4 linked regions of the Homo sapiens genome follow. The protein of the gene in region 3 interacts with the protein of the main gene of each other region in a pairwise test. Each region holds a gene or a part of one and is shown on either strand. Other genes may lie near its edges.

Region 1 (7,622 bases), on a different chromosome or scaffold from region 3:
AATTTTAACCCACATTTTTACTTAAAATGTGCAGAAATCTGTCTCCCTTTGGAATCAATCCATTAGTCATTTTTTTTTCTACTTTGCTCTTCCCCAATGTGGGTGTATGATAGGTTAAAGCCATCTACCATATGCCAGCCTTTAGTACCAGCACACGCAGGCAAACACAACACAAGACCTAGAACATGGTAATAGTAACACAGTAAATGTCAGTTGTCAGTGTTATTGTTGTGGTTGTTATTATTGTGACTACTATCAGGGAACACAGCAAAGATGGCTGTTAAGAGCAAAATCACCAAAGCAATTCTGCCAAGACAAATGTCAAGAACACACTACTTCTCAGTGTTGTACAATAAATGCTACGTATTGAAAATCTGAAAAAAAGTATAGATGTTTGGTTTTGTGCTTCATTCACTACTTCCTACAGTGCCATATAGACAAATAATGGATGTATGAAGTAACACAGGTGTGTTCAAGGTGAGGCTTGGCAAAAGGCCCCTGCCTTTTATATTTTAAACAATAGCATTCCACATGATGAAAAAACTTTCCTTTGACATTCAAAAAGTTCCCCACAATGTTAAAAAAAAAGCCTTTCAATAATAACTCTCCTTAAAAGAAGACTGAATAAGAATATGTAAAGTTTAGACCTTAATAGGAGAAAAAAAGGAAAGAGGTAAGTTGGAAATAAAACAACTTCTGGGAATATATTCATTTCCATTTCTCTTTCTATACTACTGGTTAACCTTAACCTCTCTCTGACTGAGCTGAGCTTATCCACCCATACAGCCTTGAAAGTTCACCATGTCTTTAGAGAGGTCTACTAGGATTAATACAATATGCTTTCAGGCTCAGTATCATGCCTAGACCCCTGTGAACTCTTCATAAAGGGTTATTTCTCCTGTAGATCATGTTGTACTGAATTACAATGGGTTAAGTTAGATTCACTTAAACTCTGAAATAAACAATAATGCAAATGACAAGAGCGCTGCCAATTTCATGTTGCTGTTATTTAGAGGCTATTTGGAGAAGTACCCAAAACCTCCATTGTCTTATTTCCTATTACTACCAAGATTAGTAAATTAAATGATATTTTATGAATTATCTAAATCTTAAGTCTAATTTAATCATCATTGTCAAGATAATTTAGGAAATTTACCTTAACTGTTAACTGACTTGCTTAATGGTACAGACAAAAATAAAACAGCATAATTTAAGAAACCTGAGTTTCAAAGACACGCCAACCTTCCAGCATTATTTTGCTAAACTGAAAAGTCATACCTTCAACCAAGGAAGTAAGGAGGGTGACATTAGCTGCTTTCCGTCTTCCTGCTGGTAAGTTTAAGCCAAGCCTATCCAATTTCTCTCTCAGGCAGCGGCCCCCATTCTTTGATTTTGCTCTGTACAAAAACAAACAAAAACTAGGTTTTGAAATTTCACATTCTGATGAAAATTATGAGACGACTTGACCACATGGGGAATACACTATCAGATGGAAGACATCATGACTAAGGGTTGAGGGTATGGTATCAGTTAGCAGAAATTCTGTGCCAGAATATAGCTTTGTCTTACCTTCTCAAAATGCCTCCCAAGAGTGAAGCATTGAGGCACTCAGGTGGGGAGAGGCGCCTCTTTACCTCAGCAATGGTCACCTTGTATTTGGAAGTAGAACTAAGAAGGGACAAACGGCCAGGGACAGAGCAAAATAAGTCTGTGGGGTTGACCACACAGGTGCCACCTTGGGAGAAAAAAAGTATATAACATGTTAGTGACAGTGAAAGAAGCTAACTGCATGAGAGGCAGTTAACATCAAAAGACTATTCTGGATTTGGGAATACATGCTAACAGTTGTACTTATATATCCCCCAGATCATCGCAGGGAGCTGCTCTAAATGTTCTTTCAAATACTACTCAGGGTCATGTCTTTTCAATGTTTGTGAAAATGTCTGTGAGTGTACAATTGTTAGAAACATTGGCATCCTACGGAGTGTAGACTGACTCACCAGTGCTAATTTTGGCAACATCCACACTAAGAAACACTTCAATTAATCAAAAACCTGAATTCCAATAGTTAAGCTCACAAAGACTAGGTATTACTTATACATGGTTGTATGTTTATGTACACACACAGATGCACAATGTACACAATGGATGGAAATGTTTTATCCACAATTACTGTCTTTTCCAAAGTGTTTGAAAACTGCCATCTTTTCCTCATCCATCTGCCAATTAAAGGCAAAACAGTCACTCAATCCCAGGCACTGCTAAAAACCAGTTACTCATTGAAAGAAATTTCTAATCCATACAGGTGATGATAGGTTAAATACCTCTATTGTATGCCAGCCCTCAATATCAGCACAAGACCCAGAACATAGTAATCATAATACTTATTAAATGTTAGCTGACAATAATATTGTTTTTATAATTGTCATTGTAAATGTAAATTGTAAATGTCATTGTCATTATTACTATTAGGGAGCAAAACAAAGATAATTGTCAGTAGCAAAATCACCAAGGCAATATTGCCATGCTGGGGTTCCTGGAACAGAAGCTTTCTGTCTCCAAGCTCCAGAAAGCCCCCTGAGCTTCAATCTCCTCCAGGAACAACAGTGTATGTTCCCTATCCTCAGGCAGTCGACAATAACTGAAGAGGACTTGACGATCCAAAGGTGATCATCTCTGAGAAGCATTTCCCACTGTCCAATTCCTCCCCCACTGCAAGACTTTGGAGCCAATGTCCACCCTGCTAGCATGGTGACTATACAGTTCCGGGATCCAAAACCGCCTAATGCATTGAGCAATCTAAAGGCAGAGTTTTTAAGGGTCCGAGGCAAATTCAAAGTTGGCTTTTTTGATCATGTATTTTGTTTCTTCAGCTAGGGTCAATCTTACAACCCATATCCAGAAAAGGGACAAGTTCTATGAGAGAAAAGAGGTTTTAAAAAAGTAGATGGGAGAAGAAAAATGGGCAGAAGAGTGTTGTCTAAAATATTTTTACTTTGTAACTTGTTAGAAGCATAAAATCTCAGACCCACCTCCAAACTTTTTGAGTCAGAATCTGCATTTTAATGAGAGCCTCAGATGATTCACATGGTCATTAAAGTTTGAGAAGCACTGAACTAGGACTTACCACTTGCCTCCCAGGTATCTCCTACCCTTAACTAGCACATATGGAATATTATACCGGTGGTAGAAATTCTGGCATTCAGATTCTGGTATTTTCCCTGGGCTGGGTTGCAAAAGAACCTGGGAGGACATTTAAAAAGGCAAAGGGATCCCAAACCTGAGGAGACAGAAAAAGTTAACCTTGCCCCACTCTTAAAACATTTCTACCCCTGTACCTTCTGGAATTCTTCCTGACTGTCTTTTGGTCACCCAAGTTTTCCTTGCAAGTGCTGGAGACCAAGATCTTTCTCCCTAAGCATTCTAAAGTCCCTCCAAAAAACAACAAACCAACAAAAACCAGAAGAGTAATCAGTGGGAATGTCAGGGTAGCCAACCATCTTCAGGCTAGAAGTTAGGTCCTGTGCACTCTGCCAAAACCTCCATGACAGTGTCTGAAAACCTGTTCGCAGTTAGAAATCTGAGAGTTCAAAATCTCAATCGTCAAATTAAAATCCATTTCTTGACATCAAACTTGTAGCCAATACAATGGCAAACCATGTAAACACCTGCTTTAGGAGCTAAAAACAAATTCTCCTGTACTTCCCCCTCTTCATATTCTCACCGAGTTTTAAGCCAAAATACAACAATAAAAATGTTCCCCCAGATTCCTGGACCTAAGACTACCATTTCACTTTTGTTATCGGTTTCACTCTGTACTTAGAGATGCAAAATGCATTTCAAAAAAAAATCTTAAATGACTTCTTAAAATTTTAGATGAACAGGAAAGCAAGGTAGGTATTAATGAATCTGTGGTGTAGAGTCATACTGTGAGAATTTTGATCCTGATTATTTTAGGAATTAGATAAGTCTACCCCAAATATATTAAACAAAGAGAAATCAATGTCTTTATGCAAAATTCACATAGCCCTCTTCTAAAAATGGATCTCTACTCACAGTCACTATAAATCATAAGCAAATTGATATTCTGACATAAACTTTCCTCTCTTGCATACTAGCCAGTATACAAATGAGGACACAAGGAATCTCACACAGTTGCCAGTTAGCTTCAAGTTTATGATAAGTGAGAGAACAGAGCGTTTGAGTATATGTATGAATTATTTTCCTGGATGCTAAGGGTAGGGAATACCACAATTTTAGAACTTTCTTATCTTTACTAATCTTCAGTGGATTAGAAACCTAATTTAGGGAGATGTAGATGATTATCATTTTTAAAAGAAGTTGTTAGATCAGGCTCTCCCCAACTGGAAGACTTTTGGCAAAGTGAACCTTATGTGTTGAAAGCCAGCTGCTCCCAGGGAAGCCACTGAGTCTGCTATCTACCCACGTGCTAACTCCCTGGGCCCAGAGTCTCCCTCTCCTACATCTAGGTTGGGCTTCTGGCTTATGCTCAAGTAGACATTTATTAGGTAAGTTACACAAGCTGCATATTAAGAGTATGCTTTATGCACACACAAATTGCCTGAAGGATTTATTTTGTATTCAGGATTAGCCATCAACTCTAGAGTCTTTTATTTTTTATGTCACAGCATCTTTAAAGGGAATTTCTGTTGCTTTGATACCTGGCATTGCTGCAACCTTGGGGAACTCTCTAGTCCTGGCTAAAGATTTGGCAACTTGTAGAGTTTACAGCAACTTGGGGAACCTGATATCTTTCTTCTTGGTGATTTATTCTTTAGAGAGGTGGAAAAAAGTAGTAGGTCAATATCACCAGGGTTTTGCCTTTAGATTGAAGGTGCTGAGGGAGTGATACTTCTTTAAGATAATCCAGACTACAGATGGTAATGATGAGATCTCAAAGAAGAATGTTATGAAACGTTGGCCCACACCAAGCCATTTACAGTAGTCATCCCCAGTGTTACTACTTGAACTTCCTCATGGTGCTTGTGTTGCATGTCAGCTCATATTGAAATTATGTGATAATCATTCTAGATTCAGCATCACAATTAAGAATGTCTTTGATTCTATAGCCAGTGTATTCATGCAGAACTTCTCCAGAGTTCATCCCTTTTCCATATACAGTTCACAGAAGCAATACTTTCACAAAGTTCACTATTTTTAAATTTGGAATTTGGAGATAGGGCTCTCTATTTTCAGTGATGCTGCAAATTCTGATGGGTAGCTATGGTAACAGTGGTAAGAAATCAGAAACTATCTGCTCAAGGTCCTTTGCCTAGGACATGGCTTTCATTAAAAGGGATAACTTTGCCATAGCTACAGGAAGAAGTCAGCCAGAGACTTCTGGCTCAGGTGTGACAAAACTAGCACAAAATACATGGATGCAGATCCTCCAGCTGCCATATCTTGTTAGATCTTATTCGGTTTGAAGAAGCATGGGGTGGCTTTACCTTGGCTGCCTTGGCATAACAGGGGACATCTGGCCAGTGTCTGCAGACAGTGTGGGGCAGTGGAAAGAGTACCGGGCTACAAGTAAGAATTTGACCAACTATCGACTCACGCAACTTTGGGCGAATGACTCTGGGTCTAGTCTGTCCATCTAAACAATGAAGATGCTCACACTTGCTCTACTTATCTCCCCACCTTGTAAGGAGGTGCAATGGGAAATGGATGCACGCACGCTCGGCAACCTGATTATAGGCCACCCAACCCCGCCACTTTTTTTTAAAAAAACAACTACCCCGTTGCAGGGTGTGAACTGCGGGGTAGGACAAGACAGGTCCCCCCGCCGACACACACACACACACACCCCGCCACCGTCTGTGCTGCAACTGGATGGGAAAGACAAGCGCCGGAGCCTGGGTGAGCTTTTTCTCTTCTCATCCCAGGCTACTGGGGCAGAGGAAACAGCGGCGGCTGTCTCCAAGGAGCCGCGGGTCCCTGGAGCCTCTAAATCTGCCTCTGAGCCATACTCACGGCCTCCGCGCCTCCCCCGTCTCAGAACGCACCCAGCTGTGGCGAGAGGTCCCGCGCGCTCTCCAGGTGCGATCAATACTTCCTAGCGGGCTTCCGGGCGCTGGGCCGGTGCGCGCATCCTCTCCAAAGCCACAGCGCCGCCCCACTCGTCGTAGCGTCGGTGTTGACATAATTAGACCAAATCTTGAGAGCAAAATAAATGATCTGTTCGCCTTACAGCCAAACAGATGTTTACAATTCAAATGAAAGAAATACAAACGGCAGGGATTTTTCTTCTCCCCTTCTTCATCTCCAGTGATCGCTCTTTTTTTTCTGACACATTAAAAATGTGTAAGCGATTACAAGAGTTTCCTGTCCCTGTTTGTTCTGCGGTTGCATTTCTGCGAGGTGCGCCTGTGAGTTGGGTGGGGAGAATTATTCTCTGCTGCTTCCTCTCTAGCCTCTCACCCTTCCTAACCCTCCTCCCCCATGTTACCCCTCCCCCCATGTTACCTCTCCCCCCACGGCAGCAGATATTAATTGTAATCAAACAGCAAAGGATGCGGACTTAATTGGAATCAAGTAGGCCTTTGATGATGTGTAAGGAGCGAATTGTTTGGGGGGAGGGTATAACATTACAGGTATAGCTGGATTACCAGGGCCGAATGAGCTTCTCCTTTTGTAGATTCCAGGCAGAACAAAAGAGAGGTGTGCGTGAAGAGACTCGCTGGTTTAATGTGGCGGTAGGTGTGTAATGGTGTATATTAGGGTGTGTGTATGGCGGGGGTTGGGGGGAGATTAATCCCCATTCCCCAGTGCAAAAAGTGTTTTGGTTTCTGCTGATTTTCAAAGCAGTTAAAGAAATTAGAGAAAAGGCTGTAGGCTGTGGGAAAGCTACCTCTTTCCCTCTACAACCCCCAACGCCCACAAAGATTTCCAACAAATCATGCTTCTGGATGCTTTGGTACAAGAGTTTTAGATTTCATATAAAGGAGATTGAATTTCAAACCTGCAGAATCTGCACTGGGGACTAAGGAGGCAGGCGAGGCTTGAGGTGTATCTCTGGCTCTATCTTCACCCATAATGGATGAACCATAGAGATGAGTTTTGGCTAGCGAGAGTAGTGATTCCAGGTAATCCATCTGGAATCCGAAGAGTACTGACAAAGGAAGAAGAGCAAGGCTTCCCACGCTCCTCCAATTGTACTCCTTCAGGAGCTGCTGAAAGAATCCACGGCTTTCTCCATCCCGGATTCCAAGGCTCTGGGCCTTCCTGAAACCCAGAGAAGCAGAGGAAATCGCTTCCTCCTGCCAAGCAGCCTGCTGCCGGCCTTGAGGCCGGCTAAAGGGAAAAGCGATCAGGTCCTTCTACTCTGTTATGGGCAGACTGAGCAATTGAAGCTAAGGTTCCATTTCAAGGAATTTTTTTTTTAAAGAAATTAAATCAGATCTGACAATGTTTGTACCGCGGCGTAAATGCCTTTGCCTTGGCGTGCCAGTCACCTCTAAGCGCTCTGACAAACTCAAACTCTCTTAAAACGTGCAGAGTTCAGATCATATTAATTCCTCCAAAATGTTTTGATTCAAAGTAGTTTGTATTTTGTGTAGCCACGGGCAATCAGGAAAGCGCTCCTGCCTGCCCATGGCCGG
Region 2 (7,916 bases), on a different chromosome or scaffold from region 3:
ACAAGAGCGAAACTCCGTCTCAAAACTTCCATTGCCTTCTTCTTAGAGATGAAGAAGTAAAGAGATTTAAAAGTTACTTATCCAGTTCAATAGATGTTAAGTAAAACAGCTGGAATTTGAACTTAGATCTGGTTTTATCCATGATTTTGTACTATTTTTCAGTGAAAACTATAGTCAAAAGACTAGAAAAAATTTCAGTGTAGTTAAAAAAATACCTGACTCTCCTACTAAAAGTGTGTGTGTTGTATGTTCCAGTACTTTCCGTGCCACACCAATAGCATTTTTAATTCGTCTGAGATCTCCTACTGCTCCTACATCCATAGTAGTGCTGCAAGAAAATAGAATGCAGTTAGGAATTAAGGAGTTTTCAGAGGTTCATAGATTAAAAACATTGCTTTTCTCCAATCAATAGTGTTTTGCGGTTAAACTCCACCATCTTAACACAGAAGTGACAGCACATCCACGAAGTTCATATAGATTCCCACAATCAGACAAAATTAAGGAAAAAAAATAGAAAATCAACTTGCCATGTACCACAACAGCACTAAAATTCTCAGTTTCTCCAAGCTAATTTTAAATATGGCTTTTGAAAGGGGCCTGAAGGCTTCAGGTCAGGCAAACCACAGCATTTGTGGACAGCAGATAAATGATTGTTTATAAGGTCAGAGACATAGTTTTTTAGCTTGGCATTCTCCCAGTTCTAAGGGACTACCTATCTCTCCATGTGATATTTCTATTACTCTGATTTTTTTTTTTCAGTTGAGAGGGAAACTGTGTTTAGAAAGGTCAAGTATAATAAGCTAGGGGTTTTGATCTGTGTCAAAACTCATGCATTCTTTCATCTTGCTCTCAGAAGACCACAACTCTAAATGTAACTCAACATAATAAATAGGACCTGAACGGTGTTCTTACCCATCCATGATCATGGCATCTAGTGTGGTTTCTCCAAGTTCATCAGGACTTCCTCCAAAGCCTACAGAGCCGTCACACTGCTCTCTCTCACACATGGCACAGCCGCTCTCCACTGCATCCAGGGCAGAGCCTCCAGATGCTAATGCCCTCCACGCTGTTAATCAAATCCCAATAATGCTTGTTTATATATATATTTTTTTTTCAATGCCAAATGCAACAAACCAACTCCAATTTAACAACTTTTTCACATTTACTGAGTTAAGCTGATTTTTTAACACATTAGTTTATCAAGTGTTACAAAGGAGTCAGTGAAGAGTCAAAATTATTTAACTAGTTATCAGAAGAACTCAAAAAACTGGCTATTGGTGCAAGCTGAAGGTTTTTTTTTTTTTCACTTACTAATATCTATCTCTTCTGTGTGCGAGAAACGAAATCAGTATCCCCTCCTTTATTTTAAAAGGTACAATCGAAACCACTAAAAGGCAGTTAAATAAAAAATCCACTAAACCGCAGCCTTCTTCACACATTTCTTCTGCATCATTAGATTAAAATATGCATAATTGATATGTGTATTGAGGTAACACCTATCCCAGGAAGTCTTAATAATACTGAACAGCAAACAATTACAACGTGGACTTCATATGGATTAGTTCATTGAGTCTTCATAACAGCTTCTGTGGTAGGTACTGTACAATCACGACCCTCATTTTAAAGAAAAGTAAACAGAGCCACAGGTCAGGCAGTTAGTTTAAGGTCACACAGCTGGTAAGTAGCAGAGCCAGGATCCCATACATTTGGGGGTGTGGGGGGAAGGGTCTTTGATGGACAATTTCTTTTCTGGTAACAACAGAATTCCTTGAAGAGTGGGTGCTCTGGTTGGTAAACACTACAGCACCTACAGGCTTGAAAGTGTATTTACGCAAGTTCCCTCTTTCAATACAGGCAACTTAAACACAGAACTGTCCCCCGCCCAGGCTGATGCAATTTCTTTTCGTCTCATTATGGCTGGGAATATCTTTCTCACAGCCTGCTTCTTCATTTTCTCTGAATCGTATGCACTGCCACCAAATTCTGGAGCCAATTCTGCCCTAGAAAGTTAATACGTTAGCAACCTCAGATGGAGGAGGAGGGGTCTGAAAATGACTCTTCTGGTCATTAAGCAAATGAAAGAAACAAGCATAGTACAATGCGAAAATGCCAAGATAATGGTACGTAAAGGCTATTAACAAGGTGTAGAAGGCAGGAACCTAACTCATTCTGGACACGAGGGCAGTTAAGTCAGGGAACGCTTCCTGGAAGAGGTGATACCTTAGCTTAGTGGTTCTCAACCCTGTCTGCAAATCGAAATCACCTAGGGAGCTTTTTAAAGAAAAACAGTGGCCCTGATTCCAGCAGTTAGATCACAGTCACAGGAGGTGGGCCCCGGCAGGATGATTTTTGAGAAGCTCCCCAGATAGTGTGAATGTACAGCAAAGGTTGGAACCTTGAATTCTAAGTGGCAGGTAAAGTATGACAACACGTGGCAAAAAAAGTAAATGGGAAAAGAGTAGGCTATGGCTGGGACACTATTAGTCGTCTACAAAATTGCAAAGAAGTGAAGGATTAGAAACGAGAGGTGGAGACGTACACAGCCCGTGAAAAGACTGTCAGGCAGAAAAGCGTAGCTGCTACTTGATTAAAGCACAAAGGCCATAACTATGGTCAGCAGCAGGGTGGAAAATACATTGCGCTGGGGGCTGCATGAAGGGAGGACCTAAAATGCAACAGCGGTAGGTGGGGAGGATGCAGTAAAGGCCACTTGCAAGAGACTGAGCGGCGCTGGAGACTCGGGAAGACCTAGAGGGCGGGACCGCGAGGCCCGGCCCAGCCCGGCGCTCTTCCGTCCGCCCTGCCGGGTGACTGCAGCGGGGCGGGCTAGTCATCCCCACCCGCAAGCTCTCGCGGCGCAGCCGCCCGCCCAGGCCGCCAACCCGCACCTGCTTCGGTTGCATTCTTAAAGGGCCAAGTGTTGACGACCAGGGGCAGAGGGCTGGAGCAGCGCACTAGGGCCTGGCAGAGCAGAAACGGCACGAGAAGCACAGGCAAGTTCGACTTCCGCGCCATCCCTGACCACCGAAGAGACCAGCGCGAGAAAAGTCCCGGCAGCCAGCGATCGCCGAACAATTAATCCCCAGTGCCCCGCCCGCCTGGCGCCCACGCCCGCTCTCTCGGGGGTTCGCTCAGGCGTCCCTCAACTCTCGCGAGACGAGGCGTCCCTGGGCCCGCGGGAGAGTTGTGTCACGGGGCACTGAGCTGTTCCCTGCGCTAAGGTGCTTCTTCCTAAGTGCTGTTCAGATTTTTAAAATAGCCAGACAAGTTGCTGCTTTTCCTGTGGTTAAAATAGATTTAGCTTGATATTGGGAATTTAATACAAAATTATTCAACTCTGGGTTGCAGGGCCCCAGGAACTTTAGCCGATTGCTGTGTACTATGGATTTGGTTCTTTTACTGTCTTTTTAATTTAAAGTTGAAGTTGAAAAGTTTGTCAAACTCAGTATATTCTTGGGGATCCCAGGCCTCGGAGGTCTGCAATAGTTATGAGTGTAGGTGAAGCGTGTTTGCTTAGGACCGGATTGATTTTAGATTTTTTTTCCATTCATAGCGTCCGTCATTTTCGCACCACAGCTTTTTGTAGCACTTCCTCTCATTATAAATCCCTGAGCTGGAAGAAAAACAGAAACGGCCTATGTACCCTCTACCTAGCACACTGAAGTGCAGCTTCCTGCACCTCCAGGGCAAGACGGCTACCTCCATTCCTTTTTAAATGTATTTTTACCTTCCTGCCTGGCACTATTAAGTGCTAAATAAATGAATAAGAGGAGGAATGGGGATTTTACGTGCTTGGTGGAGGCTGCTCAGTTTTGTTGCTGGGCAGACGTGCGAACATGAACTAATAATCCCTTTGGGTGTCTGGAATGCCTGCCCAGGTTGCCAAGGCAAGACACATAATCACATAATTTTTAAAAGCATCTATAAATCTATACAAACTTTAAAAATATGAACTAGGCTGGGCACGATGGCTCACGCCTGTAATCCCAACACTTTGGGATGCTGAGGTGGGTGGATCACGAGGTCAGGAGTTCGAGACCAGCCTGGCCAACATAGTGAAACCCGTCTCTACTAAAAATACAAAAATTAGCCGGGCGTGGTGGTGCATGCCTGTAGTCCCAACTACTTGGGAGGCTGAGGCAGAATTGCTTGAAGCCGGGAGGTGGAGATTGTGGTGAGCCGAGATCGCACCACTTCACTCCAGCCTGGACAACAGAGTGAGATTCTGTCTCAAAAATAAATAAATAAATAAATGTAAAAATATAAACTAGGTAGGAGTTGTGAGACTTACAAAACCTTCAAGGCTCTTATTGATTGCTAGGAAATTAAATACATAATTTAAAGAACATAAGATAGCCCAGAAGTATCATTATCCCGTTGGGGAAGTGTTAATTAAAAGATATAATAAAGACAAATTTTCTAAGTTCCTTTCATGGGGTTTGGAAGAGGAACAAGTCATCTGTGCTGGAGTAATCATAACCCAATGGCAGGTGAAACTGGAAACTTGGGTGAAACAGGGTAAGAAAGCCAGAAAAACATACATTGTCCTCTGAGTAAATTTTCCTTAGCTCCTGGGCTGAGTATTTTTATGCAGCCTTAAGGAATTAGGACATGCCTTTAGCAAAAATTGTAAAATACAATACATGGAAAATTGGTCTTAGTACCCCACTGATCTCTCTAGCCTCTTCCTGTTTTTTAAGGTATTTGTGTTTCTTCTGGTGGAAAGAGCCTGATCTGTTACCTCCTACTATGTCTATTTCTCCAAATTCTTTCTTCTTAAATAAAAATTCCTGTCAGAGAAACAGCTAAATTACACTATAGTGGGAATGGCTGATAGAAGGTCTCAATATATCAACTTTTCCATGGATATTTGTATGTATGTATGTATGTATGTATTTATTTTTTGAGATGGAGTCTTGCTCTATCGCCCAGGCTGGAGTTCACTGGTGTAATCTCAGCTCACTGCAACCTCCACCTCCTGCATTCAAGCGATTCTCTTGCCCCAGCCTCCTGAGTAGCTGGGATTGCTACTGCCTACTACCATGCCCGGCTAATTTTTGTATTTTAAGTAGAGACAGGTTTTGCCATTTTGGCCAGGTTGGTCTTGAACTCCTGACACAGGTGATCCACCCACCGCCCCCACCCCCCCGACCTCCCAAAATGCTGGGATTACAGGTGTGAGCCACCGTGCCCAGCCGGATATTTGTATTTAAATAACTAATATGCAATCCCTATAGAATCTACCCGATTCAGTGTCTTCTTAGTGGCTACTAAAATACCTACTGGATCCACTGTCCAGTTTGCCTAAATTGTAGCTGTTTCTTAAGTTAAATTCGTCTGGATATTTGGTTCCTTCTGGAGTAGTTTTCCTTTGACTAACACTTGAAGAATAATTTTCATTTTAGTTCTAGAAGTAACCTTCTGTTACTCTCACTTAGGTGCTCTTTTGGGCCTAAATATAATTAGATCCTTCGCCGTTGTTTTGAGGTAAATCTAAACGAAAAGGAACACCTGTTAACAGGTAGTGATGCCGCAGGAAAGTGCTGGGAAGGGAATGCTGGGAAGGGAAGGGCGTGGTCCCTTTAAATGATAAGGAAGGGGGGCGGGAAGTGCTGGGTAGAGGAGGGCGTGGTCCCCAGCTAGGGCTTCATCCCTGGGCCTGGGCCTACCTAGGTGAAGACAGGCATTTTTGTTTTCCTGCCCGGATGTTGCATTTCCCAAGACCACCCTGGCCTGCCATGCCCTCATCCTGTGCCTTTAAAAACCCCCGAGACCCTGGCAGGCAGACGCACAAGCAGCTGGACATTGAGAGGAGCATATAGGCAGAGAATACAGGGGCTGCTGGATGTCGAAAGGAACGCACCAGCATAGGAGCACACCGGCATGCTGGCAGGCCATTGACCAGCGGAAGAATGCAGAGTTTGTCGCGGGAGGTCAGAGAAGAGTCAGGCCGCCATACCTGACTCCAGGAGAAAACCGTCTCCCTTCTGGTTCCCCCGTCTGCCGAGAGCTACTTCCACTCAATAAAACTTTCCACTCATTCTTCAAGCCCACGTGTGATCCAATTCTTCCCGTACACCAAGGTAAGAACCCGGGATACAGAAAGCCCTCTGTCTTTGCGATAAGGCAGGGGTCTAATTGAGCTAACACAAGCCGCCTACAGACGGTTAAACTAAAAGAGCACCCTGTAACACATGCCCACTGGGGCTTCAGCTGTAAACATTCACACCTAGACACTGCTGTGGGGTCAGAGCCTCACAATCTGCCCGTCTGTATGCCCCTATAGAGGTTTGAGCAGCAGGACACTGAAGAAGCGAGCCACACCCCCATCACACGCCCTGCAAGGGCGACAAGGGAACTTTTCCTGTTTCAGTAGTAGACCGTAAAATAAATGATCCTCAGTTTTTCCAGCATCCTCTCCAATTTTTCATTCTTTTAAATCATTATACACAGGGCAGAGATATTTAGTGTTACTGATAAATCAAAGGAACTATTTGTAAAAGTATTTTTATTTAAATTTAGAATGCATTACACAATTTTGTTTGGCAAAATGTTTCTGTTCCTAAGTAGAGCTTACTTATAACTAGCAATACTTCAGGAGGATTTTCCAGACTTAGATTTTAAAACTTAGGGTGTGGCCAGGCCTAGTGGCTCATGTCCATAATCCTGGCACTTTGGGAGGCTGAGGTGGGTGGATGGCTTGAGCCCAAGAGTTTGAGACCAGCCTGGGCAACATAGCGAGATTCCTGTCTCTATTAAAAAAAAAATTAAAAAAAGGTGACTGTGTATCAGCTGTGGTTAACTCATGTAAGCTTCCTAAGCCATGCTTTTCTCATCTATAAAATGGAGATAATAATAGTATTCTTTCTTATTTTACAAAGCTTTGTGAATGAGGTAGGAGATGTGGGAGAATGGTGTAATACCAGGCAAATTAAATAAAATTCTCTTATTCTAATTTGCCATTCCCAAGTACCTATAATTGATGTCAAGGAGGCAGTCCAGAAACATACAAGGCAGTAAAAAGAAATCAATTTGATCAATTTGAGACACAGAAATTTCCACAGGAAGAATAAAGAGTTGGCCCAATACCTATAATGCATTTGAAAGTAATCACTTAGAATTTCCTTGAATATATTAAATGAGAATTAAAAATAATGTTTTTAGTTTACTTGGAGCTGCCTGAAATTTGGTTTGAATGCTTATAAAGATGGTGCATGGCAGGACTGTGAGATTTCTGGATGTCTTAAAAACAACACCCTTAAGTCTTAACAAGGGGAAAGCCTCAAATGGAATCTTAAGTGATGTTGCAAATAGAGCCTTTGTGTGTTTGTGTTTGTGTATGTGTGTGTGTTGGAGGTGGGTGGAGGAGTTTCAGACCGCTGCAGGCTCTCTTATTTCCTCTAAACTTCATGGCTTTCAATTTATCAGTCTCAGAAGGATGAAGAGTTGAGTCCCTCCTGATAGCATTTGAAGCTGTGGTTCCACAGAGGATTTAATGCTGTAGTTGCAGGGAGTCTAGGTATTTCAATTCTGAGGCTTAAAAAACTAAGCCATCCCCTCCGGCTTTTGCACTGATGCTGTGAAATCCATTTGAGAAACATGTCCATGTTTTGCTACTTGTTCAAAGCTGTAAGCCTGACTTGGCATTGAAATGATAATTTCTTTTTCAAAACTCCCCACTGAACTATTACCTAGGTTATCTAAATATAGGCTATTTACTTGATTGGCATTTGCTCCTGTCAGTTTCATAAACTGTAAGTAATGATTTTTGCTGATGTTAGAGCATTGTGGTACTGTGTTTCTAATTTAAATCAATGTCTACATTAATCTGGGAACATTTGATGTTACTACCTGATTGTACATTCTGGATGTAATTAGAGTCATTATACAGAAATAAGTGTCATCCTCTTATTCTC
Region 3 (6,495 bases):
TGGAGTGGAAAACATGCAGCTGGTATCTGCTGCAGAATTTATTTCCTTGCTTCTTGATGGGGAGAAATCCCCACACATTAGCCACAGAAATCTTCTGTGTTGATTGTTGTTGAGTGAGAGAGTAGAAAGAACATTTGAGTGTGTTTTTTTTTCCTTCTACCCAATAGCATAAGATGTAAAAATAGCTTATGCTATTGGGTAGAAGAACAAAAAGCTAAATCAAGACTCCTGAGTTCTAGTCCCAACTTTGTAACTAGCTATCCATGAATCCTTGAGCAAGTCCCTTCACTTGCCTGGGTACCTATTTCTAATTTGGGAAATGAGAGAATTGAGTCATTACTGACAACATCCCTTCCAGGCATAAGAGGGTAGATAATTTCCTAAACAGGCTACACACTGACCAGTAATAGCTTCAGATGCCCAAAGAGGAAAAAATATACAGTGGTCAAATTATGTTGTATGCTTTATCACCTTTTTGCAAGTTTATAAAGCCACACTGGAATATTAAAGGGACTGAGATGGCCTGCAATAAATAAAGCTCTACAACCAGTGGCCGGGCTCAGTGGCTCACACCTGTCATCCTAGCACTTCCGGAGGCTGAGGCAGGTGGATCACCTGAGGTCACAAGTTCGAGACCAGCATGACAAACATGGCAAAACCCCGTGTCTACTAAAAATACAAAAATTAGCCAGGCGTCATGGCGGGCACCTGTGGTCTTACAGGCTGAAGCAGGAGAATCACTTGAATCCAGGAGGTGGAGGTTGCGGTGAAACAAGATCGCGCCACTACACTACAGCCTGGGTGACAGAGTGAGAGTCCATCTCAAAAAAAAAAAAAAAGAAAAAGAAAAGAAAAAAAAAACAACTCTATAACCATCACTCCCAAACTAACTTAGCCAGAAAACTCTCTATTTTTATGTTACCTGTTAACACCCTGTAACACAAATACTCCTCAAAATATACTTTGAAAAATGATGAAAGGGAGTATCAACTGATGTTTTTATAATACCTGTATAATCTTCTTATGTATTGTGAAGCAGAAAATAAATGTTCACTGCAAGGATGGATTTAAATACTGTCACTGTTCTTATTCTAATTTTCAGAGAGAGTTCTAGATGAAGCAAGCATTAAATAAAAGACGCATAGTGAGGCTTTCATTCCAAGGGATAAAATCTTTTGTCATTAAATCAAAGTGGTGAGCCAGTGCCTGGGGGTAGAGGGGTATGGGAAGTGATTGCTTAAAGGTCATGGGGGTGTTCTTCTGCGATGATGGAAAAGTTTTTGAAGCTAGAGAGAGATGATGTTGCCCAATATTATAAATATACTATATGTCACTCAATTATACACTTTAAAATGGTTAATTGTAGGTTATGTGAATTTAACCTCCATTTTAAAAAATCAAAAGAACAGGACCTCTGCTAGCACAACTTTAAAAGAATTAGGAAAAGGCACCACTTTGGAGAAGATACAGACAGAGGAGTGCACAGTTTGTTGAGCCTCCAGCTTGATGTAAGAAATAATATGCTCCTTCCTCTGAGTGGACAGAGCCACACATCAGGGCGCGACCTGTACATCTATACACAATGGCCCTACAATGTAGTCAACATTTTATTCCCCTCATTTAGAGCTCTGTTGTCTCTGAGAGGGTTTAGGTTGGATGTACCTTTTAATTAAAAGGACTTTGGCTCAGAAGCACCCCAAAAAATCCTGGTTGGCATTCAGGAGGGAAGAGATAGATCTTGTGACTTGGCTTAGGATAAAAGTTGGTAGTAAGAGGAGGTCCTTGAAGTTTATGTGTTATCTGGTCTAGATTACTAGGATGGAAGCCCAGAGCAGAAGCACAGAAGCCCTACATAGGAATGTTGTATTCATTTGACTGGTACATCAATCATGTTTTATTTCTCGAGAATCTAAGTAAGGCAGTCACAACCGAATTAGAGAACTAGTAAAACGGAGATGAAGAAATTGGGAGAATCCCCAGAACTTGTAACTAGAAAACCAGAACCATGATATCTTAAAGAAAAATAATTTCAAACATTAGTGTCTGTGTTAAACCAAAGCCACGTTCAGGAATAACAGACAAACACATTCTTTCTTCTTATGGTACTGGAATGGTCTACAGCCCATCACTTAAATGAAGTAATGAATGCCAGAGGGAATCAGCACAGTAATAAGAAATGTGGTATATACACACAACGGAATACTATTGAGTCTATAAAAAGCAGGAAATTCGGTCACATATTACAACATACCTAAACTTGAAGGATATAATGTAAAGTGAAATAAAATAAATTTCATTTTCTTAATTTACTTAGAGGAGGTAAGGGAATGTTCAGATTAGTCTTCGTTCTGTGGCACAGGAGTCAAATTCTCAAGTAAGTGTCATACCTTAAATTTTGCATTGAGGAAGATGTTGAAAATAGTGCCACAGTAGAAAAGCCCAGAAAGGGAGAACTGATATGCAACGCCACTGTCTCCAGTGCTCTTATCAATAATGTATTTCAGGTCCTCAGATATCTGAGCCTTTTGCAAAAGGAGATACATCTGTTTAGTATCAAAGATTCTGCTAAATTTAGATCTGAATTAAATAGCTCCCGAGATTGTTGTCATGACACACCCACGTATTTCAAGCATCCAACATAAAAAATATTAGCTAATCAAAGAATCTGTGATGTAGCTTTGCTTAAGAAGAAGCAAGGAATTCACAAAGAATCATATCTTTTAAACCAAATTTGATGTGGGATTTGAAAATATGTCTTAATTCTGACTCAGAAAGAGTTATGATGTAAACTCAAAGCTGTCATTTCTAGAGAAGCAGAACTACCACTTGGTGTTCTGGTTCAAAATCCAAGAGTAGCATCGTAACTTGCATTTCTCAGTAATGAACCCATACTCCATGGAGGCCTGGTCACCTTTTATTGCATCTAAACAAAACCTTTATATTCACCGTCATCAGCTGTCTCATTCAAATTATATAAACTTTCCAGTTCACTGGATTAGTCTCTAATATCTATAATAAACTGCATACAGCCGATCTAACACTCTGTAGTAAATCACATACTCCAGTATTAATATGTTAAAAACTATAATTTTATGCAGTTAAAAAATCTAAATCTATAGAATATCCTAAGATAAAAGATGAGACAAAGTCACAAGAAGGTTAACTTTTTTAGCACTTAAGATTTTCTTGAACTGTGCTTATTATGCTGTTAATAAATAAATAAAATCTCTAGGAATGGCTGTAGTAAACTGTGTTATTACTTACCCTAAGCTCTCCCTTCCTTCCTTTTACTCTCAAAAAAGTCCGTAAGAAAGGAAGCAAATTTTTACGGCTTGCTTTCACCATTGGAATTTCCTTAGAATGACTTTTTACATAAAAAAAGAAGAAAGGAAAGAAAGAAAGGAGAAAGAAGAAAAAGAAAGAAAGAAAGAAAGAAAGAAAGAAAGAAAGAAAGAAAGGAAGGAAGGAAGGAAGGAAGGAAGGAAGGAAGGAAGGAAAGAAAGAAAGAAAGGAAAGAAAGAAAGAAAGAGAAAGAAGGAAAGAAAGAAAGAAAGAAAGAAAGAAAGAAAGAAAGAAAGAAAGAAGAAAGGAGGGAAGGAAGGAAGGAAGGGAGAAAGACAGAGAGAAAGAGAGAAAGAATTGACTATAGTGTTTAAAGAGTTTAGTCTGGAATCAGAGGTTGTGGATTCAAATTTCAGATTCACTAGATACTAGTGTGAACTAGGGTAAGTTACTTCAACCTGTTGTGGCTCAGTTTTCTCACATGGTTGATGGGAGTGGCAGTGATACCTAGCCCATAGATTGCCGTGAAAATTCAGCAAATTGATACATGCGAAGTACTCAGAACTATTTAGGCACATAATCAGTGATGGGAAAATGTTATCAATAGCAATTAATGCAAATCTCCCAGGCCCAAGAAAGCATCCCTTTCTGGCCAGCTGAATATAGTCTTGCTTCACAGTCAAAGGGAAGATAAGAAAGTTAGAGAAGGAGCCACAGTTAAAATTGGAGGGAATTAAACTGTCATGTGAGACCCAATCACCCAGTTGTAAGGGTCAACACTGAGTAATATTGACAATCCTTAAAGGTGAGGCATCAGTCAATTATTCCTTGACCATGAGGAAATTTTAAGAAACATGAGGAGTTAGGGATCATATTCCTAATTAATGCCAATGACTTCTTGACCATGGTAAAGAAGCCTAATTGCAGACCAAATACAATCAACTTTCAAAGGCTCTCAGTAGGTTCAACAAATAATTCAGGGAGAGGCCAATTATCATTCAGAGACAAATTATCCAACACAAATAAGCAAGAGACTTCTGGAATTATGTAAACAGTAGCTGGCCCAGGCTTATAAAAGGCCCAATGTGGCAGCCATCACCAAAACTCAGAAACTCCTCCAAGCAACCCAGACTTCATACCAGCTCCCAACACCATGACCTGCTGCCAGACCAGCTTCTGTGGATATCCCAGCTGCTCCACCAGTGGGACATGCGGCTCCAGCTGCTGCCAGCCAAGCTGCTGTGAGACCAGCTGCTGCCAGCCAAGCTGCTGCCAGACCAGCTTCTGCGGATTTCCTAGCTTCTCAACTAGTGGGACCTGCAGCTCCAGTTGCTGCCAGCCAAGCTGCTGTGAGACCAGCTGCTGCCAGCCAAGCTGCTGCCAGACCAGCTCCTGCGGAACTGGCTGTGGCATTGGTGGTGGCATTGGCTATGGCCAGGAGGGCAGCAGTGGAGCTGTGAGCACCCGTATCAGGTGGTGCCGCCCAGACTGCCGTGTGGAGGGTACCTGCCTGCCCCCCTGCTGTGTGGTGAGCTGCACACCCCCAACCTGCTGCCAGCTGCACCACGCCGAGGCCTCCTGCTGCCGCCCATCCTACTGTGGACAGTCCTGCTGCCGCCCAGTCTGCTGCTGCTACTCCTGTGAGCCCACCTGCTAAAAGCCAGTTTGCTGATTTTCAACTTGAAATTTCCACTTTCAGTTCCATTCATGAACGAATTATTTCTTCAAGCACTTATGGACAACGAACAAATTCTTCAACCTTTCTTTGTCTTTCTTATGGGGGTTACCAAATATTTTGGCCTCAGAATTATCTGATTCCTTTCAATTCCAGAAAGACCTTACTCTTCTCTCTGAGGACGCCAAAATACAAATTTGACCCAAGAAATGAAAAAGCCGATTTACCTTGAAACTGAGCCTTTGCAAGCATTGAAGCCCACGCTCTGAGTCTCAGCGCCGACGAGACCATGGAAGAGCCATCTGTCCTTCTCAGGACACTCACTTCCTGTATCCCACCGTCCTGCAAATTGCACCCCCTATGAAAGAGGAATAATATACCAAGGTCTAATAAATTTTAACTATTGGTGCAACAAACATATCTTTTTTTTTTCATTGAGTGTACTCAGGATGTATATTTCATAGAATGTCATATGAAAAACTTTAATCTGCTTTTGATATCCCTTCTCTTCTAATACCACATTAGGAAATTTGTTATCCAGAGGTCCAGTGGAGGTTAATGACCATAAAAACATAGAGTAAGTGTAGTTATTTAGGGCCTCAGAAATGGCAAAGGCTCTGTTACCATAACTTAACCTTACACAGTGCTTTCACAACCAGGAAGTTACAGAAATCAAAATCTCTGGCTGGGTACGGTGGCTCACACCTGTAATCCCAGCATTTTGGGAGGCCAAGGTAGACAGATCACGAGGTCGGGAGTTTGAGATCAGCTTGGCCAACATGGTGAAACCCCATCTCTACTAAAAAAAATAAATTGCATTTCTATATACTAACCATGAAAAATCTGTAAGGAAAATTTTAAAAACAATTCCATCAAAAGAATAAAATACTTATGGCCGGGCATGGTGGCTCATGCCTGTAATCCCAGCACTTTGGTAAGCTGAGGTGGGCAGATCACCTGAGGTTAGGAGCTCAAGTCCAGCCTGGCCAATATAGTGAAACCCTGTCTCTACTAAAAATACAAAAATTAGCCAGGCATGTTCGTGGATGCCTGTGGTCCCAGCTACTGGGGAGGCTGAGGCATGAGAATTGCTTGAACCCAGGAGGTGGAGGTTACAGTGAGCCAAGATTGTGCCACTTCACTCCAGCCTGGGTGACAGAGTGAGACTCCATTTCAAATAATAATAATAATAATAAAATAAAGAATAAAATACTTAGGAACAAACTTAGCCTTGGAGGGGAAAGACTCGTACACCAGAAACTACAAAATGTTACTGAAAGAAATTAAAGAAGACACAAATAAATGAAAAGACATCCTGAGATCATGGATTATAGGATTTAATATTGTTAAGATGTCAATACTACCCAGAGAATCTACAGATTTAACGCAATCCCTATAAAAATCCCAATGATGTTTTTGCAGAAATTTTAAAAAAATCCATCCTAAAATACATATGAAATTAGAAGGGGTCCTATATAGCCAAAACAATCTTAAAAAAGAACAAAGTTGGTCTCACATTTTCCTGTTTCAAAATTTAC
Region 4 (8,606 bases), on a different chromosome or scaffold from region 3:
ACACCCTCTAACAAGACTTCCATAGTGTCCAGACAGAAAGAAGAGGGAAAATAAATCCTGCTTGTCAGCTTCAACTAGGAGATAGCATGTCATTTCAGGAGCTTAATAACTCACTTCATGTATGGCAATTACACAACCTGGGCCCAATGGATCTGCTGACATTCGGGCCTGCAAGTGTGAATTGTCTCTTAATAAATGGGGAACTAGAGGGGAAAGACAACCACGTGTGCCCTCTGGCCTTCCCTCTCTGCTGGCAAGTGGTTCTGCTTCATTCTCCACAGTTCACTTGTTTGGTACTGAAATGAGGAAGAGTATGTACCTCACTATTTTTTTTTAAAGATGCTGTATTTCTCCCAGCCTACAAATGATACCAGTAGTAACTTGGTTGTCAGAAGAGCTAAGGATATGAAAAAAGGGCAGAAGAAAATATTTGAAGCAAAAGCCAAGTTTTTATGTGGGAAATGGACAAGTGTGGAGGGAGTGAAACAATGCTTAGTAGCAATAAACTTGAAAGAAGTTCTAACTTTAAAGAAACCAGGTGAATTATTACCTTTTGGAAGGGGTGTGTGTGTGCATGTAGAGGGAAGGCTGCTGCAGGAATTGCTGCCCCACCAAAAGAGCAAAGGAGGACATCCCCTACTGAGAGATGCAACATTACATAAGAACACAAGTTCAGGCCGGGCACGGTGGCTCACGCCCGTAATCCCAACACTTTGGGAGGCCAAGACGGGCAGATCACCTGAGGTCAGGCGTTCGAGACCAGCCTAGCCAACATGGTAAAACCAAGTCTCTACTAAAAATACAAAAATTAGCCAGGCGTGATGACACGCACCTGTAGTCCCAGCTGCTCAGGAGGCTGAGGCAGAGAATCGTTTGAACCTGGGAGGTGAAGGTTGCAGTGAGCCGAGATCGTGCCACTGCACTCCAGCCCGGGTGACAGAGCGAGACTCCATCTCAAAAAAAATAAAAAATAAAAAAGAACACAAGTTCAATCACCACACCTCAGAGACTGACCAGGAAAACAGACAAAGTGCTGAGGTCTCTTTATCTGCCAGCCTGTATCTGTAACACCTCATTCTACCCTTCTTTCTCTTCTATCTCACCAAATTCTGGGCTTTCAGAAGGCAGGCTTCAGCGAAAGAAGTCAAACTTGCCCATTTGACAGTGGGTTTGCTCTCAGGGTTTAAACACTGAGCACCCTGGCACCTGTCTCTATCTAGGTGTAAGTGAGGATTTGTTTCATATGCCATTTCTACTACAGTATCCAAAAAATTACTCTGCAGACAGGAAGTCCTATCTATCAGGACTCATACCAATACTGTCCTCTGTTTAACTCGCTGGGCAGAAGTTCCTTCAGCAGCAAATGGCCAGCAATGAAAGCTAACAACATAAACCAAAACAAATGGACTTAAAGGCTGTGAGTCCATGAGAGCTGGATTCTGACTTATTCAATGCAGTACCTGCAATACCTAGCACAGTGCCTGGCATACATTCGGTATCACATAACTACTTGGGAGTACTGAATGAAAGAATGAACAAATGAATCTTATGCAAACATACCGTAAGTGTGTACCCAGGAGAAAGAGTTTAGAATGCTCATGATCTGAGAAACAGCCTGAAGCAGCAGTGCTTTCAGAAGGTTTTAGAAAGACTCCAGGTTCAATTTTATCAAAAGGTAAACAAACCAGAAACTAGCAGTATAATCTAGTAGTTCAGACTGTGGGCTCCACCATGAGATACCTATGTGACATGGGCGAGTTATTTAACTTGTTTGGTTTGGGTCTCAACTAGAAGAATGGGGATAATAATATCTACATCAAAAGTCTGTTATTAAATGAGTTCAAAAAAGTAAAGCCCTTAGCACAAAGGTTGGTACTCAGTAAGTCCTCAAGAACCTTTCCATATTATTGCTGCTTAAATACCTTCTTTCCTGAGATGTAGACATACCTCCCCCAACTCCAGGAAAATTTTAATTTCTGGTTGAATATGCTTCTAGCTAAAAACACAAAACCCAGAGAACTCAGAAGTCAGTGCCAAGCACATGTCTCTACTAGCCTCCACTAGATGGTGACAGTTTGGGTGTGGAATTCCCAAAACAGAAAAGGTGTGTGTGCGTAACTCCTATGTATGTTTTTACACCAGAGGAACGAAAACAGCAAGAAATGAATTAACTACTGTGAAGGAAAGACATACTTCCCATCTCTGTAGATCAAAAAAGGGAGTAAATCCCTAGGCCTAATTGAACTGAGTAATCTTACTGCACCTCTGGAAGAGCACACAGGAGCCCAGTTAGCGAGAGCAACAAAGCCCAGCATGTCGCCTGCCACTGAAAGAAAATTCTGTGGGAACAACAGCTTTAGGCCTCCTTGCCCAGACGCCAACTTCCCTTTAACCAGCCCAAGACTTTATTTTGACGCCTCTTTGCTCCTGGGTCTTGCTGTCCCCATAACCACCTCCCCCTCCTGCTCCTAAATTCGTCCAGGGTAACTTTTCTCCACTTCAGCAGCTCCCCAGCCACGACTCCCATGAGGGAGAGTCAGATCCACACTCATAGCTGGGGTCTCAAAACCAAGCGAAAAAAGGAAAGTCTGTATGTACGTGCCTACTTTTTGAAAGAAAATAGCTGGTTTCGGGGAGTTTAGCCTGGTTAATAAGAGAAGTTTTTGAGATTAAAGAGCAGCCGAGGCGCGGGGGCTCCCGAATGCCGCGGTGCGCACAGGCGGGCTCTGAGATTTCCTCAGGAAATCCACCTTCTCTAAGCCAGCCCTGCCCCAGCGCAAGCCCCGCAGCTTTGCTGGGCTGAGGGCAGTAATGACAGTGGCACAGAGGGCCTCTGCCTACCTCCTCTGCACCCATCGGCACGGCGTCTGGCTCTTCCGGTGCTGCCCGGGCAGCGACGCGGGACGGCGCGCCCCGGACCGCGGGTCACCAAGTTCCCGGCCGCAAACCAGCCGCCGGTCCCCCCGGCCGCGCAGCCCCCACTGCTGGCCGGCTGGCCGCGCCACGCCAGCGCGGGGCTCCCAGCGGCGCGGCTCGCGGCCGGGTGACAGCGGGCCGGCGCAGAGAAGCGCGGGGAGCCGCCGAAGCCGGCCCGGGCTCCGGCCAGCGTCACTCCTGGGCGGTGCGCGCTGGTCCCGCGCCCCTGACAGCCGGCCGAGCGCGTCGATGGCACAATGCCGGCCCCGCCGCCCCCGGGCCGCGGTGACAACTCACCCGGGAGCCGGCGGAGACCTCCGGGATGGGGGCGCTCACAGCTTCCACGCCGCCGCTTGCGCGCGCCCGCAGTCTTCTCGGGTCTAGGCGAGGCCCCGCGTGCCCTTGTCTAGCTCGCTCTGGCCGGCGCTGTGGGCAGAGGAAGCGGGCGGGAGGGAGGGAGGAGGTGGGGCGGTCGCCGGCTTCGGAGAATAGAACGCGGCGGTAGCGACGGCTGCAGCGCCCGCGTCACTGACCCAGCTGTACCGCGCGGGCGGGGGAGGCCCCGCGGAGGGGAGGGGGCGGGGAAGGGGCGGGAAAGGGGCAGGGCCAGGCGCGCACGCAACGGCGCCGGCGTCGCGCCGCCGCGACCGCCCCGCCGGGAGGCCCTGCACGCACGCGCCGCCGGCCGGGCCAGGTACCCAAGGGAGAAGCGACGCGGTTGGGGAGGTGGGGGGTCCTTAAAGAGACAGTCCCTCTGCGCTGGAGTGGATGGGGCGGTGGCACCGACTCAGCTGGACTATGCGGCGTTTCCAGTGCGCTCTCCAGTTCGTTTACTATTATTATTATTTGCATGATTGAATTACTATTATTTGCAAAGAATTGTACTGCCCTGAGGTTTACAAGGCTTTTGGCGCATGTTGCCTTGTTAGCTCTTGAATTGCTCGTCTGACCTAGCTCGTCTGAAGCAGGTTATTATCTCCCTGTTAAGCAGTAATCCGAACTGTGGTTCCTAGCCTGCCAACATTAAAGCTGCCCGGGGGGTGGGTGGGGGTGAAAATGCAGATTCGGGGCCCCGAATGACCTCCAGCCATTGTGATTCAGTGGGGTCGGACTTGGGAATCTGTATTTTCACTAGCATTCTGAAGTGAGTGATCCTTCAGCATACTAAAAGCACACAAGGGATCTCAAGGTTGAGAAAACCGCAGTTCAGAGCCAGGACTGGCAGAGCCCGGGCTAGAAGCCTGCCACATTCCTAACTGTATTTCCCCTCTTGAGCCTTGCCTTCTGGGGCTATTTTCTAGCACATACTGAGTGAGCAGTTTGTGCACTGTATGGCTACATCGTTTATTGGTGATCTCTCATGCAGTGTGTCCTCGGTTTATGTGTTTACAGGGCCCGTGGCGCCTTGATGGGGAGGACTCTGGCTTTTTATCTTTGTACCCCAGGGCCTTGCACCGTGTCGGTCTCAGAGGTCCTCCATAAGTGTTAAGGAACTCCTACTTGTAAATCAGTGGTAGAGTCCACATCTGGACCTACAGACTTGTGTCTTTGCTGCAGCTTGGGTCAGGCAGGCCTCTTCTCCCAGATGCTCTTGGACAAAAGGATACACCTTCTCAGGGCCTCTCACCAGGCCTAGTTCTAGTAGGCTTTCGGGAAAAGCACTGTGAATTAACAGGGCATGTCCTTGTGAAGTAGCTTGAACCAAATAAACAGGATGCTCCTCCCCATGCACACAGACCCATCCCCAAAAGAACCCTTCCCTTCTGGGCCCCACAGCAACCTGTGGCTCGTTGCTATAATGCCTTTTTCATAAGTCTATCCTTGTTCTGCCTTCTTTCTTCCTTGCCTTCTTGGGTCCAGACTCATTAGAGAAGATGGGCACCCCTCCCTTCCTGCTCATTTGGGGCCACACTGCCCAGACCACTAGAAGATTGAAAAGCACAATTCAGAACTACCTGGGTCTGCCTCAGAGCACAACCAAATCAGTGTGGGCAGCAGGAACATGCCAGGCAGACCCAAGGCTCAGGGAGGGGACAAGGGGGAAGGAAGCAAGGGAAAGGGATGGAGGAAGAATTGGAGAAGATGAATGGAGGAAGGAGAAAAAGAAAGAAAGGAAAGGGAAGAAAGCAGGCATGGATGGTTCAGGTCAGATCAACTGCCAAAGTAACTGAGCCCCTGGCTGTGCACTGAAGTCAGTTTGGCCATTAAGAGGCTCAGTAACTTCATACAAGAACTGCCACCTTATAAAATCCCTTGTGAGACCCTATGCAGATCTGTCCATCACTACCCAAAAATCCTCAGTCGGGCGCGGTAGCTCACGCCTGTAATCCCAGCACTTTGGGAGGCTAAGGCAGGCAGATCACGAAGTCAGGAGTTTGAGACCAGCCTGGACAACATGGCGAAACCCCTTCTCTACTAAAAATACAAAAATTAGCCAGGCGTGGTGGCACATGCCTGTAATCCTAGCTATTCAGGAGCCTGAGGCAGGAGAATTGCTTGAACTCAGGAAGCAGAGGTTGCAGTGAGCCGAGATCGTGCCATTGCATTCCAGCCTGGGTGACAGAGTGAGACTGTCTCAAAAAAAAAAAATCCTCTCCCAGACCTTCAGGGTCCACAGAATGAACTCAAAGTCATCAGCAAGGACTGTAGTATCCTGTGCTGTCCACAGTCCGGCCCAAATGCTCTCCATCCCTCCACACACCCCACTCCAGCCTCCCCATACCACCTGCTGGTCTCTAACAAGCCATTCCTGTCACAAACCAGGTGCCCATGCTGTTTCCTCAATCTTGAAGGCCTTCTCTACTTACCCTTCAGAATCTTCCCAAGGCTGCTGCTTCTACTTTTCTGTGGCACTTTGGTTGAGCCCCAAAGTGCCACAGAAAAGTATTAAATTAAAATTTTTAAACATTTTAAATATTTAATTATTTATTTATTTATTTTGACGGAGTCTTGCTCTGTCGCCCAGGCTGGAGTGCAGTGGCATGATCTGAGCTCACTGCAACCTCCGCCTCCCGGGTTCAGGGGATTCTCCTGCCTCAGTCTCCCGAGTAGCTGGGTTACAGCTGGGATTAGCTTCCATTTCCTTCTGCTTTGAATTGCCAGAATCAGGGTCAAGTCTCCTCCCTTTATAAATGTCAGCTCACCAGCCTTTCCTGTCTTCTCATCCCCTCCTATCTGAAGTTCCACTGGCCTCTTCAGTACAGCTGACGAAAAGCCCCTGTTACATTCTACGTATAGGCCTTGCTCTTCTCACCCGCAAAATGGAATGGTACTTCCTGGCCTGGGGTGAATATTATCTTTCTGCCATTGAAAAGATCTCACAAGATGAAGGTTAAGAATAATTTAGACTTAGACATTCTCAAGTGGGAGGGATCATAGATTTTTTTAAATAAAATTCTTTAAAATTTTTAAGATTTTTTTTTAATTTAACAGCTTTCTCACACCTGTAACCCCAGCATTTTGGGAAGCTGAGGCAGGCTGATCATTTGAGGCCAGAAGTTCAAGACCAGCCTGGCCAACATGGCAAAACCTCGTCTCTACTAAAAATATAAAAATTAGCCTGGCGTGGTGGTGCACGCCTGTAATCCCAGCTATGTGGGAGGCTAGTCACAAGAATTGCTTGAACCTGGGAGGCAGAGGCTGCAATGAGCTGAGATTGCGCCACTGCACTCCAGCCTGGGCGACAGAGTGAGACTGTGTCTTAAATAAATTAATTAATTAATTAACAGCTTTATTGAGATATTCACATACCAGCAATTCACAGTTTAAATTTGTATTTATTTTGTATAACTTTACAAATTGTACAAATTTGCACATGTACAATTGTACATTTAGAGTGAACAATTCAATGGTTTTTAGTATATTTACAGAGTCGTACAATATTTTAGAACATTTTCATGACCCTAAAAAAAACTCCCATACCCATCAGCAGTCACTACCATTTCCTCCCTCCCTACCACCTTCCCTGCCTCCCTCCCTAGGCAACCAACAATCTACTTTCTGTCTCTATAGATTTGCCTATTCTGAGCACTCTCTATAAATAGAATCATACAAATATGTGGCCTTTATAATTGATTTTTTGTTTCTTCCACCTAACAATCAATTTTAAACCAGAGCTAATTTTTTATTTTCACTTTTCAATTCAGACCCTGCCTTATTCTAAAAGGACTTAAGATGGCTCTTTGAGCTAATATTCCTGGGTCCTTCCAGATTTCCAGCATAAATCTTTTTTTTTTTTTTTTTTTTGACGGAGTCTTGCTCTGTCGCCCAGGCTGGAGTGCAGTGGCATGATCTGAGCTCACTGCAACCTCCGCCTCCCAGGTTCAGGGGATTCTCCTGTCTCAGTCTCCCGAGTAGCTGGGACTATAGGTGCGTACCCCCACACCCAGCTAATTTTTGTATTTTTAGTAGAGACAGGGTTTCACCACGTTAGCCAGGCTGGTCTCAAACTCCTGACCTCAGTGATCAGCCTGCTTCTGCCTCCCAAAGTGCTAGGATTACAGGCGTGAGTCACCACACCTGGCCAATTTCCAGCACAAATCTTAATATTCTGCTCTAAATCTAGGTGCTGGAATATGGCATGGGGGTTAGATTAGTCCCAGTTGGTGGTGAGTAGAATAGCCAGCCATCCCAGTTTGCCTGGGACTAAGGGGATTCCTGGCACATGGGACTTCCAGTGCCAAAATTAGGACAGTCCTGGGCCAATCAGGATGAGGTAGTCACTCCTATGATAAGAGTCAGGAGGCACAGTATTCCTTTCATCTCCCAGGAATATAACAAGGAGTGTGTGCCTTTACTGCTTGCAGGGCAGGACAGAGGAGTTTGGCTCTCTGAAAGTGAGAGAAAAGGTTCAGAATAAGTACATGGAATCTCAGTTGCTATGGTTATTACATACAATAGTAGTAATGACAGCTACTATTTACAAAGCACCTACTGTATGTCAGGTGCTTGGTAGGGACTTGATACGTGTAACCTCTAATTTTGGCAACAGTCCTCCAAGTTAATTATCATTAACACCATTTTACAAGCAAGGCTTAGAGAGATTTTTTTTTTTGACATATCAAAACCACATAAGTATGTATGTTGCAAAAGCAGAATTCATTCTTGTTTGTCTGTTCCAAAGGTCACACTTTCCCAAATAAACCATGTGCTTCCTCCCACCCCTAATAAAAATAGCAAATAAAGATTGAAATTGTCCTCATATATCTCTTGCTTTTTAAAAAAGTGCTTTTTTGCATACCAGCTAGTTTTTTACAACATCCCCATAAAACGAAGAGACATTATTGTCCCCAATTTTACCTATAAGGAAGTTGAGGCACTGAAAGGTTGCTAGCTTGTCTGATCTCATATAGAAATTAGCATGAGTTTCATGTTTTGATTCAAGATTCCTTGGGCAGCTTTCAAAGCCCTGTGAAGGTAAACCCATTTGACCCCAGAGGAGGTGGAAGGTGAGGCCACCCTCACCGCAGAATGTCAGAGTCCAAAATGGGTGGGCTGTACAGGGCTAGGCCAACAGGAGCTGAGAAGCAACTCCCACTCCAGAGGAGGAAGATCTAGGCTCAGGAGGTTATCTGAATTTGTGAGCCTGCACCATCACCAGGGGCAACCCTTCTTGCAGCTTGTCAGGAGCCTGTGAGAGCCAGGCTTGGTGACGCAATCCCTGCAGGCCACTGGTCGGAGGGAGCTTTGTA

The links.
Region 1: the proteins of KRTAP1-3 (region 3) and TFAP2D interact in binary tests that used the Homo sapiens proteins (3 or more experiments, as listed by UniProt).
Region 2: the proteins of KRTAP1-3 (region 3) and AGA interact in binary tests that used the Homo sapiens proteins (3 or more experiments, as listed by UniProt).
Region 4: the proteins of KRTAP1-3 (region 3) and SUSD6 interact in binary tests that used the Homo sapiens proteins (3 or more experiments, as listed by UniProt).

What each region holds. Positions count from the first base shown.
Region 1 is NC_000006.12:50,722,969-50,730,590, reverse strand, and holds part of TFAP2D (transcription factor AP-2-delta), read right to left. Parts: intron 1,736-7,622; coding exon 1,570-1,735; intron 1,398-1,569; coding exon 1,279-1,397; intron 1-1,278.
Region 2 is NC_000004.12:177,439,361-177,447,276, forward strand, and holds the start of AGA (N(4)-(beta-N-acetylglucosaminyl)-L-asparaginase isoform 1 preproprotein), read right to left. Parts: upstream 3,078-7,916; 5' UTR 3,016-3,077; coding exon 2,889-3,015; intron 1,067-2,888; coding exon 913-1,066; intron 329-912; coding exon 216-328; intron 1-215. UniProt on the Homo sapiens protein: Cleaves the GlcNAc-Asn bond which joins oligosaccharides to the peptide of asparagine-linked glycoproteins.
Region 3 is NC_000017.11:41,032,762-41,039,256, reverse strand, and holds KRTAP1-3 (keratin-associated protein 1-3), read left to right. Parts: upstream 1-4,382; 5' UTR 4,383-4,435; coding exon 4,436-4,939; 3' UTR 4,940-5,373; downstream 5,374-6,495. UniProt on the Homo sapiens protein: In the hair cortex, hair keratin intermediate filaments are embedded in an interfilamentous matrix, consisting of hair keratin-associated proteins (KRTAP), which are essential for the formation of a rigid and resistant hair shaft through their extensive disulfide bond cross-linking with abundant cysteine residues of hair keratins.
Region 4 is NC_000014.9:69,606,436-69,615,041, reverse strand, and holds the start of SUSD6 (sushi domain-containing protein 6 precursor), read right to left. Parts: upstream 3,447-8,606; 5' UTR 3,214-3,446; intron 1-3,213. UniProt on the Homo sapiens protein: May play a role in growth-suppressive activity and cell death. May be involved in the production of chemokine molecules in umbilical vein endothelial cells (HUVECs) cultured in THP1 monocyte LPS-induced medium. Plays a role in preventing tumor onset.